Regions from separate parts of the Homo sapiens genome. Here region 1 is linked to region 2. Evidence: fine-mapped expression QTL. Tissue or cell type: activated CD8 T cells. Region 2 holds a variant in brackets; the other region holds the start of a gene. All regions are shown on one strand. Distances are from middle to middle.

Region 1 (5,378 bases), 33 kb after region 2:
CAATGGCCTGTCTGTTCTCCATCTGAACCTTTGGAGTCTAAGAATCTCTCTTCCTACCCAGGTCATGTGACCAAACACTTAGGAATTATTTCTAAATTATAAAATCTTGCATGAAGATATATTCAAGGAGTACTGTATAAAAAAGCAAAAGGACTGCCACTGGAGATGAAATGTTTATATTTTTCCTTTTCAAGAGAAAGGTATCTATGGAAAGTGAAAAGCTTCCTTAACCCCAATAAAATAATTTGATTTTAAGGTAACAGGACATCAGAGCAAAGGAAAGACTATCCCTTACAACTGAGAATTTGTTTGGCAGGAGGACGACTATAGATGGGTGTTTCTGAGCTTTGGCACTGTTGACATCTTGGGCCAGATGCTTCTGTATTGTGGGGGCTGCCCTGAGCCTGGTAGGATGCCCACCCTGACCTCTCCTCCGCGATGACAGCGCATGCCCCTGTCCTATATTGTGACATGGAAATTCAAATGAATCCTGGAAGGTTAGATGACCCTCCTGTGAGAACCACTGTTCTCAAGAGATTGCAAATCCATGGCTCCAGCCCATGTTTCTACTGACCCTTGCCAGAATGCTAGGTATTGATCACACCCCCTATGCCAGACACCATCCCTGGCCCTACACACGTGATTAGTAACAAGACAGTCTTTGCCTTTGGGGAGCTCAGCCTAGTGGGAGACAAACCCACAACTCACCCCTGAAGCTGTGGGGTTGGAAATACAAGTTTTCATGCAAGGCTTCCTCAGAGGTGACATTTCACCTGATGCCTGAATGATGGAAATCACACAAGCTTGAGGAAGGGGAGAACTTTCCCATTGTAAACTTCCAAGTGTGTAAGAAGTACCAAGGTGAACAAAGGCTTGGAATGCCTTAGGCGGGAGGAACAAGGTAGGGGATGGGGTTGGGAGGACAGGGTGAGGCCGGGATGGGGTTGGGAGGACAGGGTGAGGCCTGAATCCCGTGTGGTCTGGGAAATGACCACACGGGAAATGACCCCCCTTCTCAGGCCTCTAGTGGGACACATGTCAGAGGCTGATGGGGCACTGTCAGCAACTATACCTGTTATACAGGGACAGGGTTATTACCACCACCAAACAGGACAGCAATATAAGAGGAAACGTTCTCGAATTCCAGGCAGGAAGACTTTCTGTCCCATTTTCCTATTGCCACAAGGAGCCAAGAGACAAGTGTATGGCTTCCTTCCTTCATTCTCTGTGTCCCCAGTGGCCAGGGATGCCCACTGTGGAGGCACCCGGGGGCGCACAGTGTCTTCAGACGCCTGCCTGCAGCCAGTGACATATGAAGATCATCTACATCTTTCTTTACCGCAACATTAGCAAATCGATTTTTTTAATTGGCTTGATTTTTAAAACCACTTAAACATACAAACTAGCATCAAATTTATACTTACAAAACAAAAAAACACAACTATGTCAACTTAGTAACGAATGGGAGAAGCACCAAGGAAAAGTGACGGCAGGACCCAATCCTAGAGCGCGTTTCTGGACTTTATTCTGTGACTAAGGTATTTTCCTCTTTCTCAGCTAAAACGTCCGCGCGCGCCCGCGGGGCTCACCTTCCAAACAAGCAGGTGCTGAGGCTCAGGGGAAAGTGGGGACCGTCGACCCCGCTCCTTTTGATAGTAACCAGGCGTCTCGTGGGCCACATTTTCTAAACAGTAAGTTGAGTATAATCCGTAGGGGAAGGCCAGGTATAATCCGTAGGGGAAGGCCAGAAGCAAATTTACAACTCTTCCACTGCAAAAGAGGTGCGAGTTACTCTGATAGCAAAGGAGCTAAGAAGGGCCCCGTGCCCAATTCACCTATCCCCGGCCACAGAAGCGCACACCGCAGCTAGCTAGCGGGGACCCCAGGACGATCCGACCGCAGCCCCCGGCGCCCCAAAGTCCGGCAGCTGGGGTGTTGTCGCCAGCGCCTGCGCCTCCTGGGAGCTTCCACCGAGACGCCCTCGCCAGAGCCCAGGAGGAGTCGGGCCCAGGCCGCGCGTCTGTCCCCTGCCCGTCCCCGCAGAGCTCGGGGGGTCCCCGCGGCTCAGCCCTCGACCCCGGACAGCTCCCAGGAGTCCCGGCCGCAGCTCACCTGGGACGATCCGGCCCGCAAGGCCACTTGTCGAACCACCGCTCGTCAAGTCGCACCCAAAGTCCGCCGCAGGAGGAGCCGGCGCCGCGCTCACCTCCGCCCGGTAAGCTGCGCCCGCCACGCTCCGCACACACCGGGCCGCAGCCCGCGGGGTCGCGTTCGCTGCACCCCGGCCTGCAGTCCCCGCTGCTCCCGCCGCCGCCTCTGACGGGGACCCGGTGGCCCTACAGGCTACGTCCCCGGGCGCCCGGCTCTAGCGGCTCCCACCGAGTCGAGTCCTCCCGCCCGCCCGCCCGCCCGCAGCGTCAGCCCTCCACTTCCTTCTTCCAGCCCGGCGCGCCCGCCCAATTCAAACGAAAACGAAGATTCAAATTCTGGCGCTAAGCGCTGCGATTGAACGGGAAAGCGCGGCATGGGACCAATAGGAAGGGAGCGCAGGGCGTGGGCGGGGAGGGGGCGGGGAAACCGGGCTCGCGGGGCGGGGCTGGCGTGTCCGCGGGCGAGCCACTCACGCATCCGGAGGAAAATACCTGGGTGCATCCCCGGCGAGGGCGGCTGGCGGAGGGCAGAGGTGGAACACGCTCCCACCGAGATAACCCGTCCTGCTATCCTTTTCTTAAAGGACCAAACATCTGGGACACTATAACATTACTCATTGCCAGAAGATTTAAAACTGCTAAAAATTAAAAACAGGCGGGACGCGGTGGCTCACGCCGGTAATCCCCGCACTTTGGGAAGCTGAAGCAGGAAGATCCCTTGAGCCCGGGAGTTCAGAACCAGCCTGGGCCACCTGGAGAGAACCCATCTCTACAAAAAATTCGCCAGGCGTGGTGGCGCCCCTGTAGTTCTAGCTACTGGGACAGCTGAGGTGGGAGGATCGCTTGAGCCGGGGCGGTCGAGGCTGCAGTGAGCTGAGATCGCGCCACTGCACTCCAGCCTGGGCGACAGAGCAAAGCCCTGTCTCAAAAAAAAAAAAAAAAAAAAAAAAAAAATCGAAACCTTCCTCTTCAGTGCATACATCTTACCAAACACAAAAACAACCAATTATATAAAGTAGTTTGGTGTGTCTTTTCCTGCTATACGTGTATTCTCTTTTTCAAAAGCACAGAAAAAAAGGTCATAACATACACAACACGATTCTATACTTTGTGCTCTCTGCTTTTAAATATCCTGAGGCTATCTCCACTGAACACATTCTCGCTTTTACTCTCTGATGGCTGCAGAGCACTGGGCTTCGGGAAACCATAATTTACTTAATCATTACTATTGCCACATACTTAGGTTTACAATGTTTTGTTATTAGAAAACATTCTTCAATTGAAATGGCTTGTGCATGCCAAGATGGGTGAATCCTAAAATAATTCTACACAGGATTCTATCGGGGTCTGCTTCAGTTGCGCTGGTGGCCATGTGGGCTCAGTAGGCCACCTGGGGTGAAGTGAATGGAGCCTAAACACGCTTTTGGTGACAACGGCCTCTCTGCCCCATCTCACCTCCTCCAGCTCCCCAGCAACCCTTGGAGCTTGGCTCCCTTGATCAGGGAGGCCTCGATGCAGGGGACCCCTGAGGACTTCCTATTCCTTTCAGAGAGTCCATAAGGTCAAAACCATTTATCTAATGACCCTCTGTGTTACTTGCCCTTCTCATTCTCATGCTCCCAAGAGTGTGGGGTGTGGTTCTGCAAATGCAGAAGCAGTGAGGAGACTCCCACTGTCTCCGTTTCAACCAGGTATTACAGAGATTTGCAAAAATGTGAACTAAAGCGCTGTTTTCATTTTGTTGTTTTTTTTCCATAAAAATAAGTTATTGGTGTTAGCATGAAATAGGTGCATCACTATCTTAAAATGAATCAATAAATGAATATTTTTAAATTCCTTAGCCTTAACTTAAAATATATAAATATAGCTAGATATAACCCATCCACATTAACAAAAATTCCTGGTGGTTCTCAATAATTCTTAAGAGTGTAAAGGGACCACAAGATTGAAAAGACTGAGCCCTCTGCTCTAGAGCAACTACAAAGATATCAGCTGCTGATGGAAATAGAGAAACTGGGAAAGCAACATAAAAGCACAGGACAGCAACTCTAAATTGTATGGGCCAAGTCTGACGTAGAAAAATTCAGTGCGGGGATACTATTATATAAACGTTTTAGGGGGCATGAGTTTCCATGTTTTCCCCCATTAAACGATCAAACAAAGCCCACCACTGCATAACCCCATAAAACACAACTTTTCTCATCCTAATTACTGCTTGTTTCCAGAGACAGTTCTTCCACCCTCATGGATGCAGCCTAATTAGAACTAGAAGGTGCTAGGCCAGGCGCAGGGGCTCATGCTTGTAATCCCAGCACTTTGGGAGGCCAAGGTGGGTGGATCATGAGGTCAGGAATTCAAGACCAGACTGACCAATATGGTGAAACCCCATCTCTACTAAAAATACAAAAATTAGTCGGGTGTAGTGGCACACGCCTGTAGTCCCAGCTACTCGGAAGGCTGAGGCAGGAGAATCACTTGAACCCGGGAGGCAGTGGTTGCAGTAAGCCAAGGTCACGCCACTGCGCTTCAGCCTGGGCAACAGAGCGAGACTCCATCAAAAAAAAAAAATAGAAAAGAGAGAGAGACAGAAAGAAAGAACGAAGGAAAGAAAGAAAGAAAAAGAAAGAAAGAAAGAGAGAGAGAAGAAAAAGAGAGGAGAAAAAGAAAGAAAGAGAGAAGAAAAAGGAAGAAAGAAAGAAAAACATTTTGAGTTACTTCTTTGAAACATTTTGAGTTACTTCTTTTCTGTTGTTGCTGTTGTTGTTTTTCTTTTTTGAGATGAAGTCTCACTCTGTCCCCCGGGCTGGAGTGCAGTGGTGCAATCTCTGCTTACTGCAACCTCCGCCTCCCAGGTTCAAGCGATTCTCCTGCCTCAGCCTCCCAAGTAGCTGGGATTACAGGTGTCTGCTGCTAAGCCCAGCTATTTTTTTTTTTTGTATTTTTAGTGGAGATGGGGTTTCACTTTTTTTTTTTTGAGACTGAGTCTCACTCTGTCACCCAGGCTGGAGTGCAGTGGCACAGTCTTGGCTCACTGCAACCTCTGGCTCCTGAGTTCAAGCAATTCTCCTGCCTCGGCCCCCTGAGTAGCTAGGACTACAGGTGTGAGCCACCACGCACAGTTTATATATATATATATATTATGTGTGTGTGTATATATATGTATGTGTGTGTGTGTGTGTGTGTATATATATAGTATACTGTCGCTATATATATGTATATATGTATATA
Region 2 (5,378 bases):
CAGCTCTAAAGCTTCTAGTTGCAGAAGTTACTCCAGTGGGAATACTCCAAGTATGCCTCGTCCTCGCTTGCCTTGGCTTCTGCATAAGGTTAGTAAGAAGCAAAGCATGGCCAGGACTCCAGGGAAATGAATGGACGAAGACCAAGAAAGCCAGATGGCATAACCAGATAGCAAAACCAAGACATCATGGGCCACTTTGATGCTCAAGCCACCACCCACTGTCATTAACCGGGACAGGGAGGGGGTGGTGTGTTTTATGAATGGACTTGGTGCCTTCCATAATTCCCTCATCCTCAGAATCATGAACCGAGACACATACTTTGGGTTCTCCTTTCTGGGATGAGAGACGTGCAGATCTGTGTGGTCCAAGTTTGAATACTAGGGCCATCCTGCCTCTTTAGAATTCTGGGACGACCTCTCTTGCCAGATGCTGTTCCTCTGCCCTAATGGAATGTGGCGTCACAGTGCAGGGCTGAGGTCAGATCCACTCTTCTTAGTGGACACGACCTTCAGTTTTATAGAGCAAGAGGGTCTCATCTTAGAATATGTCTTTAAGTGACTGATTTTTAATCATTTACTTATTTGTTTGTTTATTTATTTATTGAGATGGAGTCTCGCTCAGTCGCCAGGCTGGAGTGCAATGGCACGATCTCGGCTCACTGCAACCTCCGCCTCCCGGGTTCAAGCGATTCTCCTGCCTCAGCCTCCTGAGTAGCCGGGACTACAGGCACCAGCCACCACACCCAGCTAATTTTCGTATTTTTAGTAGAGACAGGGTTTCACCATGTTGGCCAGGATGGTCTCGATCTCTTGACCTCATGATCCACCTGCCTCGGCCTCCCAAAGTGCTGGGATTACAGGCGTGAGCCACCATGCCCGGCCTAAATGAATGATTTTAAACCATATCCCTTTTCAAGTCACAGCAGTGCAACGCCTTAAAATCCAAGGCCCGTTTCCCTCTTGCTTTGATTGGTGGGCACAACCCTTAGTTCTTAGGAACCCAGGGGAACAGAGGTTGGGAAGAGAACTGCCGTGAGAAACCCAAATTGTTTAGGTGGCATCTGGGGTCAGCTAGACATTGACGAGGCAGCTCTGTGATGCTGGCTGGGCTTATTCACATTCACGTCTGGGGATTGGCTGGTAGTTGGGTAACCCCAACTAGCCTGGGCTGGGGGGCCGGGGTAGCTCAGCGGTCTTCCATATGGCTGTCGTCTTCCAACAGGCTCGTGTGGGTGAAGGCAGGCACAGACGGTGCACACACATGGCCCATTGCTTCCCCGACCAACCTGGAATCCAAAGGAAGAGGCAGGCGAGCAAAGCGGGCTGTACAGAGGAGGGGGCAGAGGTGCTTCTGAGAGGGGTATCGGACGGTGCTCAGGGAGCCTCAGGGGCCACCTAGCGTTGTGTTACCTCCAAAGCAGTGCTTTCTCGGAGTAACAGAGGGCGGGCCCAGAGCCAAATAGCTGGATTCTGAAACACAAAGAGCTACCACGAGACTAGTTTTTATTACACTAAAAATTCTTCATTAAGTTTTTATCATTGCCAACCTAAATCTATATAAACATATAATATATTTTATGTATATATTATTTTTACTTAAATATGTATGTATATATTTATAACATTTTATATACATATTTGTGTATAAATTTTCATAGATAATATTTATATATTTATATAGAACTTAGGTTGCCAATGATGAAAACCTAGTGAATAATATTTAGTATATTTATATATTTTATATAGTTATGAATATATAATATACTTAAGTTATATACATTACATTAAATATATTTAATTTATATTATACACAATATATTAGATTATATCTATAGTTATCATATTTATATATAAATACATACGCTTATATATAAATATAGGTAACTTTTCCCCTAAGTTGCTCCTATAGTTGTTTTTGGCTCTAGGGGACATGGAAGCAAGCAGGCAGATGAGGGGCCCAGGAATAAGTGACTCACTTCAGCACAAGCTGCATCTCCCGAGCCAGGGTGGAAATTTAGGAATTTGCTGATACACAGTCATGCCCCTCCTCCCTCCCAACATCAAAATTGACAGTGCTGCCTGGCCTGACCCGCCTCCCCTTGCTCATATCAGCCTGGCCTGGATCTGAGACCCCTGCCCAAGAGGGGCCTTGGATATAATTGCACTTCTCCTTTTCCAGACCCCACACAAGAAATAAGAAAAGCCTGGAGTCGTGTCCAGTCCTGACTGCTCCTTTCCCAGAGTTCTAGGCCTCTCGAAGGCTGAGGCCACGCTGGGATAAGAGGAAGACGGCACCGCTTGGAGACCTTCTGAGAATGGGGGCCAGGCTACACAATCCACCCGAGTTTTCTTCTTTTGTCCTCACAACCCTACGAGGCAAGAAATTGCCATCTTCACTCTCCCAGCTAGGGAAACTGAGGCTCAGAAAGGCCAAGCAATGGGCCCAAGTCATGCAGCGAGCAAGGGACAGGGCTGGGATTGGAAGCCAGGCCTCTCAGCTTCCAACGTCCTGGGGCTGGGAGCCGGTGGGGGTTCCAGGGCCCGGGAAGACCCCAAAGCCCAAAGTGAAATGCACCCTCTGCTCATGACCCGTTATATTGCAAGGGCTGCTAATTTCAATGTGATATG[T/G]CCTAGGAGGCATATATGTTAAATCACTCATTTCTCTAGATCAGGGATATGCAAACCAAGGTCCTCAGTCAAAATGGGCCCACAGCCTGGTTTTTGTTGTTGTTGTTGTTTTCTTGCTTGTTTTGTTTTGTTTTGTTTTGCTTAAGATGGAATCTCACTCTGTCACCCAGGCTGGAGTACAGTGGGCTGGATCTCAGCTGACTGCACCCTCCGCCTCCCTGGTTCAAGCAATTCTCCTGCCTCAGTCTTCTGAGTAGCTGGGATTTCAGGGGCCCACCACCACACCTGGCTAATTTTTGTATTTTTAGTAGAAACTGGGTTTCGCCATGTTGACCAGGCTGGTCTCGAACTCCTGGCCTCAAGTGATCCACCCGCCTCAGCCTCCCAAAGTGCTGGGATTACAGGCGTGAGCCACCGTGCCCAGCCCCACAGCCTGTTTTTATTAGCCATTTTTTGGACATGCCTGTTTGCTTGCGTGTTGCCTACAGCCGCTTCTGTTCTTTAACAGCAGAGGTGAGTCAGCATAACAGACAGTATGGCCCACGAAGCCGCCATATTTACTGCCTGGTCCTTGACAGAAAAAGTTTGCTAATTGCTGACCTGGATTAAAATCCACAGAACCTTTTCTATGCAGGGATGTGCTTCCCTATGTCCTGGCCATGCCTGGTCCCAGCACCACCTGTTTTAGCCAGACCTGTGTCTGGGCCAAGCTCAGCAAAGTTCTGCGATCTGATGTCATTTAAAGACACTGTTGACTGGGCATGGTGGCTCACGCCTGTAATCTCAACACTTTGGGAGGCCAAGGTGGCTGGATCACCTGAGGTCTGGAGTTTGAGACCAGCCTGGCCAACATGGTGAAACCCTGTCTCTCCTAAAAAAAAAATTACAAATATTAGCCAGGTATGTGTGGTGCATGCCTGTAATCCCAGCTCCTCAGAGGCTGAGGCAGGAGAATCTCTTGAACCTTGAAGGCAGAGGTTGCAGTGAGCCAAGATTGTGCCACTACACTCCAACCTGTGCAACAGAGTGAGACCGTCTCAAAAAAAAAAAAATAAAAGACAGTGTTAATATGGTATCAGATTGTGGCTGCCACATCACACATATTCTTTTCTCCTGCAGAGGCCATATTCAGTTTGGATAACCCTGAAATTTGGTTACTCGACTCTTAGTTAAATAATGTTTCTTTGCATTGTTGGTGGTTTGGGTAGTTTTCAATACGTGGGCTCGATGAAGACATAGACATATTATTCAGGATTTTTATTTTTCTTTTTTGAGACAGGGTCTTGCTCTGTTGACCAAGCTGGAGTGCAGTGATACAATCATAGCTCACTGCAGCCTTGAACTCCTGAGCTCAAGCAGTCCTCCCACATCAGCCTCCCAAGTAGCTGGGACTACAGGTATGTGCCACAATGCCCGCTAATTTTTTCTTTTCTTTTTTCTTTTTTTTTTTTTTTTGTAGAGATGGGGTCTCGCTATGTTGCCCAGGCTGATCTTGAACTCCTGGCCTCAAGCGATCCTCCAGCCTTGGCCTCCCAATGTGCTGGGATTACAGGTGTGAGCCACTGCCCCTGGTTATTCAGGCCTGTTACGTTCCAGATTCTTCCTTCACTTCCATAGAGAAATCCCTAGTGATAAAGAATTTATGAGCCAAGGGAAATATCTTGGAGTTTTAGGCATCTAATAAATATATTCATCTTCTGATGATGATGATAATTAGCATGTATTGATGCTTACCAAGCTCTGGGTAAAATGCTAAGTGTTTTACACATATTGTCTCATTTAATCTTCTCAACAATGCTATGTGCTCAGGTACTGAACAGCCTCATTTTACAGATGGGAAACTAGCAAAGTTGAAAGACTGTCCACGTTCACACAGCAGCAAATTAGACAAGCTGGAATTTGCACCTGTGCATTTGACTCCGAAGTCTGAACTCTCTCTAGGAATTTACACTCTGCAAGGGTGTGGAACACATACCAGACATCACATAAACTTTACAAATGATAAAGGAGCACCTGCCCTAACCCCAAGCAGACAGACAACAAGGGCCAGGATGGATTTTAGAACACTCTGACCTGTGAGAGAGGCGGACAGGCCTGCACCAGCTGTATTTCTGTAGTGACATACACAGGTGTATCACGCAGGGAGCCTGTCCAGTCACGGAGCCCTGGGACTGTACCATCAACACAGTTTTTGTTTGTTTGTTCTTCAGGTGACATCGAGAGCTCCCCCTGGGAGGTGGGGTTGGGGATGCTCCTTAGGAACCTCACTGGAAAGATGAGTCAAGCAGGTATCCAAGTCCAATTACCCGGCTCAGGGCTTGACATCACAGATGTGGGACTTGCCTGAGATGGGGCTGATGAGCAGGAAGCTGATTGGGGCCCTTGCAGGGCAACACACAACAAACCAATCAAACCTCCTTCCTGAAATCACTGTGCGCGCTGTGGGGGTGGCAGCGGGGGAGGGGGGGCGTGGCTTCCTGCCAATACATCATGGGTATTATTTGTTCCCTCATGAAGAGCAATAGCAATGAAATCCACATTTCCAAATTATGGAGTGCTGTGTGCCTACGTGGCACTCAATGCCAGTAATACCAGGATGGGGGTTTGGTGACTGTGTCCTGGAGATGCCTTGGGGGTCTGGGAGCACCTGGACAGCACAGAAATCAGTTTCTCCAGCTGTAACCAGAGTGCCAGGAGATTCCTGCAGTTCATCTAGAGGACTTTTCCAGGAAACCCAGCAAACAGTAGGA

Evidence for each region.
Region 1: MKI67 starts here. The variant in region 2 is fine-mapped to the expression of MKI67 in activated CD8 T cells (Schmiedel 2018, PIP 0.95).

What each region holds. Positions count from the first base shown.
Region 1 is chr10:128,123,987-128,129,364 of GRCh38, forward strand. It overlaps MKI67 (marker of proliferation Ki-67), which reads right to left and starts at 2,437. Exons shown (of 15, transcript NM_002417.5): 1 at 2,113-2,437; 2 at 1,590-1,770. The coding sequence starts at 1,681. RefSeq lists a silencer at 2,217-2,586 and an enhancer at 2,697-2,926.
Region 2 is chr10:128,090,648-128,096,025 of GRCh38, forward strand. No RefSeq gene overlaps it. Among named protein-coding and RNA genes, the nearest start is that of AS-PTPRE, 31 kb to the left of the region's middle. RefSeq lists enhancers at 740-1,241, 1,242-1,741. The variant T/G (reference allele first, on the strand shown) is at 2,629.